2 linked regions of the Homo sapiens genome follow. The protein of the gene in region 2 purifies or fractionates together with the protein of the main gene of each other region. This does not show direct contact. Each region holds a gene or a part of one and is shown on either strand. Other genes may lie near its edges.

Evidence for each region.
Region 1: the proteins of DBH (region 2) and LEMD3 purify together in Homo sapiens (affinity purification with mass spectrometry; one large-scale study listed by BioGRID and IntAct). This does not show direct contact.

What each region holds. Positions count from the first base shown.
Region 1 is NC_000012.12:65,176,012-65,179,833, reverse strand, and holds part of LEMD3 (inner nuclear membrane protein Man1), read right to left. Parts: intron 1-3,822.
Region 2 is NC_000009.12:133,642,810-133,646,631, reverse strand, and holds part of DBH (dopamine beta-hydroxylase precursor), read right to left. Parts: intron 3,220-3,822; coding exon 3,043-3,219; intron 2,415-3,042; coding exon 2,312-2,414; intron 1-2,311. UniProt on the Homo sapiens protein: Catalyzes the hydroxylation of dopamine to noradrenaline (also known as norepinephrine), and is thus vital for regulation of these neurotransmitters.

The sequences.
Region 1 (3,822 bases), on a different chromosome or scaffold from region 2:
AAATGGCAGCAATTTTTAATGTATAATCAATACAAGATTAAAATACATCTTTTTTAAAATGTTATTTTAAGTTCTGGGATACATGTGCAGGATGTGCAGGTTTGTTACATAGGTAAACGCGTGCCATGGCAGTTTGCTGCACCTATCAACCCATCACCTAGGTATTAAGCCCAGCATGCATTAGCTATTTTTCCTGATATTCTCCCCACCCCTAGAATATATCTTCATTCGAATTTAGATTATATCATTAGTAATAAAATTTTCACAAACAAGTTAGTAGTACTTATTTATTAACAAATACATTTTGGAGAGTTCCAACAGTTTAAGGTGTCCTTCTCTTTTAAACAACTTACAAACTATATAATTATCTTTGCACTGAGGCTATAAATTTCCATTTATATAACATATTTTTCAGATAGGGAAAGTTAATATTGAATAATCAATGAGCAAGGAGAAGCAAGCTTTAAGAACTTCCCAACTCTTAGGAATCATGAAAATAATTTTTCATGATTATTTTAGTGTCCCTGAAATTATCAAATGCATCATTTCCATTAAAACATATATGAGTATAAAGGGAAAATATGAAGTTTATTCAAAAGGAGCAAAAAAGGGAGATCAAATGTATGAAAAGTTCTTTATATCCTAAAAATGAACAACAGAAAGAACAAGTTGTAATTGGTAATACAAATCAAAAGATCACTTTCCCTACCAGTTTTGAGACTGCAAATATTTTAAAAATTAGAAATAGTTTTAATATTGTATTATTGTTCTATGTATTATATATTATAGTTTGCTTCATAGCAGATGCCCCCTCCCCCTTAATTAATCTAAAACCTTAAGGATAAATAGTTCCATGTGATTCATAATTGTTGAATGAATACAACTTTTCCTAAAGTTGTTAGGTTTCATAGATTATTCCTGCCACTTCTAGGATTTTATGAATCTATACTTGTCACAGTTTTCTGAAAATAAAGACAATAATAGTAGAGAACATATATCAAGTCCTTATTTATACATATTAAAAGGCAATCTAGAAGAACAGTTAAGAGCCACTGTCTGAGTTCAAATACTGCCGCTTCACTTACTAGCTACATGACCCTGGGCGAGTTACTTCTCAGTGTCTCCATTTACTTATAAAATGGGATAAGTACCTACCTCATAAGGATTAAATAATAATTGTTTAGCTCAGTGCCTGGAACACAGTTAATGCTACGTAAGGGTTAGTTATTATTATTACTATGTGCCATGTATGAGTTTTACTTTACACACATTACTTCATTCTCATTTAACCTATTTTTCATATGAGGATATTGAGGTTTACAATGGCTAAGCAACTTGCCTTAGTGAAAAAAAGCTAGTAAGTGGAAGGGCCAATATTGAAGCCCAGGTTCTCTGATAGCTATGCCAGTGTATCCTCAAACTAGTCTCCGTGGATATATCTGTAGAGATTCACAAGTTTTTCCTCATTATTTTTAATTTAAATCATTCTAGGGAAAATTTTCAAATGAAAAACATTTTCATAGAGTAGACTTTAATTTCTGAAATCATCAAACTGGTATATGCAAATCCCTGGCATTCACGGGAATATTCTCATAGATCTAGGATTTTTTTTTTTTTCTTACAAAGCAGTCAACTCGTAAAACTTCAAACATAACATGGAGCTTTCATTCTTCAAGAATGAGAGAATAGGCCGGCTGCTATGGCTGACACCTGTAATCTCAGCACTTTGGGAGGCGAAGGTGACAGGATCGCTTGAGCCCAGGAGTTCAAGACCAGCCTGGACAACAAAGTGAGATCCTGTCTCAACAAAAAATACAAAAAATTTGCCAGATGTGGTGATGCAGATCTATAGTCCCAGCTACTCAGGAGGCTGAGCTGTGAGGATTGCTTGAGTCCTGGGAGGTTGAGGCTGCAGTAAGCCATGATCACACCACTGCAATCCAACCTGGGTGACACAGCAAGACCCTGTCTCATATTGAAAAAAAAAAAAAAAGAATGAGAGCAACAGCTATTTTTCAAAATCCTTATTCCCCATATTCATTTTAGATACCAAGTTCGGGACCTTTTGGCTAGTCTACTTTAAGAAGTAAAAATATTTTTTAAACGACAATGACATTAAAACATGTTACTTCTTTGTAACAACTGGTCTTGATTTTAAAGAAAACAACAACACATTAAAAAAACAAACATTTAAAAGTATTCCCTTAGTAAACAGTACTAGTACTCACATTCAGCACCAGTCTCTCATCTTTACTCCAATTCTGTATCTACAAGAGCCTACAAGAATTTTTCACTTGAACAACTCAAATAATAAGCCCCAAGTAAACTCATTTTCCCTAGACCACTTTTCCCCAAACAAGATCCCTCTTCCACATCTCTAATTCCTCCAATGATATTATCATTCTCTCAGTCATCCAGGCTCATGGCCAGAATAATCTTTGACTCCTATCTGTCTCTTATTCTCTATACTCAAAACCATATGTCTTTCTTCAAATGAATTTCATTCATAGGCCCAACTCCATTCCCACTTATCCACCTCCTTCAGGTGTCATCACCCTACTCCTTCCCTCCAACCCTATCACTGTCTAAACCATCACCTGTTTATCCTTCTTAAAGGACCAATTCGATCATGCTTGTCCTCTGCTTTATAACCTCCATGAATTGCCATTACTCAACCTACAGAATAAAATCCAAATGTTGAATTTAGAACTTTTGATCATGTAAGACTGATCATTTGAGAATTTACAGTGAATTCTCCCCTTTTATAAAAGTGTGTAACCACATAATATCCTGTATGTTTCTTAGCCATTTCCTATTACTGTTATTAGTGGTGTGGAGGCTTCTACAGAAATAAGATTTCTTTTATATATCCTTACCAGATACTAAGTAGATAACCAATTACCGAGTTAGATACTACCAGTTAACAGTGCATATATCCTGAGTACCTGATATGTGATCATTTATTCAACAGATATTTGCTGAATAATGAATCTGTGCTGAAGATACTAATGTGACTTCCATCTACTAAGAGATTTCCATGTGCCAGACAACACTAGTTTAGATGCATTATCTCACTTAATACAAGTCATCCTCAGATAGTATTATCAATCTCATTTTTAGTATGAGGCAATTATATCTCTAGTATAGTCTACTTTAAAAAGTAGAGCCAAAATCAGAACTGAGTAAAAAGTTTGTACTCTTTAACACTGTATTCTACTCCTATAGAAATATTACTCTAAAGAAAGGAGCTGTCATCTATTTGGCATGGTGGACACACAAATATAATACTTTGTCCTAAATACTATGAAGGATGCAATTAATGTCTTATTTGAGCACAAAATGATGGGCCAAACTCTAGGGTAAAAAGATGGAGAGTCAGAGATATCTGGAGATGACATGTTTAAGAATGAATCACAGTTACAAAATAAAGAAACATTCCCAAAAAAGGGGATAACCTGTGCAAAGGTAGAAAAGCACAAATTTCATGACTTACTCAGAAAACAGCAAACAGTTCAGTTTTCTAGAAAGTAAGTGTGATAAGGGAGACTGGTAGAAAGGGCAAGCATAGTCAGATCATGAACAGTTTAGCCAACGAGTTTAGATTTTGGCCAATAACTAAGAGAAAGCCATTGTGTAATTTTAAGCAAGAGGGAATGATCACATTTGTGCTTTAGAAACGCTGCTCTGTACTGACAAATGGACTGGAAGAGCTACAGCCTAGAAGCAGGGACACCATTTTAGGTTACTGAAAGAGTTCAGGCAAGAGACTAACCTAGAACAGTGGCGAGGGACAGAAAAAGATTGATTCAAAAGATATAGAGG
Region 2 (3,822 bases):
GAATCGCTTGAACCTGGGAGGCGGAGGTTGCATTAAGCTGAGATCGTGCATTGCACTCCAGCCTGGGTGACAGAGTGAGATTTCGTCTCAAAACAAAAAAACAGAGGTTCAGGGATGCTGGCACCCACTCGAACATCCTCACAACCAGGTGTCATCCAGGTAGCCCCACCGTTCCTGAAACTCCATGCCTAGTGAATCAGCAGCCAGGCTCTGAGTACCGGCTGGGCTCATGGTTGGCGGAGGATCTAAAGGCCTGGCCCCATGCCCCCGGATGCATGGTGGACATGGTGGACATGGCGGACATGGCGGGGTGGTCTGGAGGGGCTGTGCAGCAGGAGGCTCTGCCCCCTGGGTTATGTACAGGAAAGGGATGTCAGGCGGCAAGGAGTGTGAAATTGACAAGGGGTTTTAATTCACAGGGAAGAGGCTTCTGATGAAGTTTAAGTAAAAAAACAAACAACAATGAAAAAAAAAGATATAAAATTCTAGTCACAAGAAAAAAATTAATGGGCCAGAAAAGCAGTCAGGACAGACACATAGCTGGGTGACCAGTGCTCACTTCAAAACTTGGAGCCGGGAGCTGGGGGGTGGTTTCATCTTCTTCATGCTTTTCTGCTGTCCATCTTCTCACCAGTGTACATGCATTGCCCTTTCTGATCAAACCAAGAGGGTGGTACAGATACTAACATCTTCCCTGGGTGCCAAAAATGCTCTAAGCATAACCTACCCCTTTCATGGAAGTTTTGCACAGTGAGAATCATCAGCCCTATTTCACAGATTAAGAAACTGAGGATGGAGCCTGAACTGAAGACTCCACACAAGACCACAGGGCTGGGAAGTGGCCAAGCTGAGGTTCAAACCCAGGGCTGTGGACTGGGGTGCAGGGCACTTCCAGGGGGCCCAACCATCTCCCTACTTGTTTCCTTTAAGATGAGGCCAAAACAACTCCTCTTGCCTCTGCCTTCTTCCCTCGACACCCCTACACCATCCAAACTCAAACGGCTCCTGTATCTCCAGGCTGATTACATCAGAGGATAATAATAAAAAGGGTGTTGCAATTGGTTAAAATTCAGATGGGGATTAAATCATGAAATAATTGTGGGATTTTGATATTTATAGAAAAGCAGCCCATCTCAAGATGGGTGAAGTGACAGGAGCGTCCTTATATTTGGCAAAGGATCCATAAATACAACCAGATAATCATGAAGAGACAGACTTCCCTGATGCTTCAGGAGTTTTCAAAAATCCATTTGCTTTCAGGGTTTAAATGAGCAATAAATCCCGTGTCATGCTAAGGCCCAAGCTGACTTATACCCTTCTCTGTGCATGTGGAGATAACTCCAACAGTGGCGGAAGGTATTACTTATGCAGCCAGGAAAAAAAAAAAAAACCACAGGCGACTGTTAGCTGAGCACAGCCCCGTGCCCACAGCAAGTTCTGTGCGTGAGCCTTTCCCAGCTTCACAATAGCTGTGGGAGGTGGGAGAACAGGCAGCGGGTGAGGTCATCCACCCAGCGTCCCCAAGGTGGTGAGGCACAGCCTAGCACCTATCTCTTAGGCCACTTCTGCACCTTGCACAAATGAAAAGAAGAAGCACCATTCAGAGAGAGAGAAAAAGTGTGTGCATGTGTGTGCTTCTGCGTGCATATGTGTACATGTGTGCATGTGTGTGTGCGTGTGTGTGTGCATTGTGTGCGTGTGTGTCTATATATGGTGAAAGATGCTGGTGCAACAGAGAGAGGGAAGTATTTTTTTCAGTTTCTGAGACAGCATCACCTGGCCTTGCCATGCTAAAAGCTGACCCTGCTCACTCCACCCTCAGGTATGGGTGATCCAACAGCAGCTGCCCCAGCTCCCCTTCCCGTCCCTGCACTCTGGCCAGGCCGGAGCGCCTGTGTCCTGGAATATGCCCTGCTTTACTACCACCTCCCTGTTTATGCACACACCTCTCCCTGTATTTGGAACTTGGCATCTGGCAGCTTCCCTTATGAAAATTCTCCTTGTCCTTTCCCCTGGGATGCACAGTGCTGCGCCGATGGCAGCCCGTATTATAGGGACGAGGAGGGAGGTGTGGGGCCACTGCTGGGCCCTGGCGAAGCTGTGAGGAGTGAGCCCCTCGAGGTCCTGTCCCTGGGAGCCCACCACAGCCATGGAAGATGGACAGCGGATGAGGCAGACGCAAGGGCCTCGTGCCAAGAGGAGCTGTACAGCGGGGGCACCATGCTGGGCAGACGAAGGGCGGGATTTGCTCACTGGCTCAACACAGCTGAGTCCTAGGGCTTCTGAGGAGGATGGCAGCAGAGCCGCCTACCTTCTATCACCAGTGGGTTGTGGTAGTGAACTTCCAGGCGGAGATATCTGGAGGACCCTGGACCCCCGAAGGCAAGGCCGGCTTCCTCTGGGTAGTAAAATGCCTGTGTGGGGCAAGGTGTCAGACAGACGGGTGTGTCCTGAGAGGGCCCCAGGTCTGGGCAGGGGCAAACCCAGTCAACTGTTGGGGCCTGAGCCTCAGGGGTGGTGGAGGGGGCGCAGCAGGATTAGAGCGATGCTTCCTCCTGACAGGCAGCTCATTACACGCCCCAGGAACATCCTGTGAGACTCGGGTCAGGGAGTTGGGGAGAGGAGCTGGTGCCTAGGGCTGAGCCTTCCCCCAAAACCCCTTCTCTAGACGGGTGTAAGAGCTGGGGAGACCCCCATCGTCTCAGCCTGTGGAGGCCTCAACACTGGCCCCACCGCCAGCCAGCCCTGGGACCACCTGTACACAAAACCCTGACTCCAGTTGGGAAACAGAATCAGGACCCACTGAGGGCATAAGGTCCTGCGGCACTTGCGTTTCTGTGGAAAATAAAAAAAAGGCTTGAAGCATTTCAGACATCACAGAGGCGAGGGGGCCACCTCAGGCCTGGCCCTTCTGGTGGCCTCGTGAGCCCCCTTGGGAGCCCCTTCTTGAAGCCTCTGAGACGGTGAAGCTGGGGAAACAGAGGTGTGGGGATGCCAGGGGCCCAGGCAGGAGACACCATGCTGGGGTCGCAGGGCACGCACCTTGGCACCCAGGGCCCAGGCGGCCAGCACGTGGCGGCAGTAGTTGAGGCGGTCGGGTTTCATCTTGGAGTCGCAGGGCCCGCTGAAGTGGGGGACGCTGTCCATCTCGGGGGCGCACTGGAAGACTTCCATGTGGTGGACAAGGGCCTCATTGCCCTTGGTGACGATGGGCTCGTACTGTGAGGAGGCAGCCCTCTGAGCCCGGGAACCGGCCGCCCACCCTCCCCTCCCCAGCAGCCCTCCTCCATGGGCTTCCGAATGCCCATCTGTAAAATGGGAGGGATGATCCAGACAATTTCAGGGGCACTTCTGGGGTTCACAGCCTTGAGGGTGGAGCCATCAGCCCAGAAAGAAATCCCGTAGGCAGCTCCAGAGTGAAGGAAATGAGGTTCGTACAGGCCAAGGCAGGGACAGGACGCAGCCGTCCTCATGCATATGGGGCTGTGGCCGGGCCAGCTCCTGCAGCCCCAGTGGGAGGCAGGGCAGCCCTGAGGTTAGAGCCCGGGCCCAAAGCGCACCTTCAAGGCCATGCCTCTTCCTGCTGTGTGACTCTGGACACTCACATAACCTCTCTGAGTGCACCTTCAAGGACATGCCCCTTCTTGCTATGTGACCCTGGACACTCAACCTCCCTGGGCCACACTTCCTCTGCTGGAAACTAGGGGCTCTTATGATGAAGGAGGGATCACCTCGCCCCTCCCCCGGGACTAGTGGCATAGTGGACACTCGACAGCTATCGCCTTTGCTATTCTGTCTTCCCCGGACGGGTGTTCGAGAGCA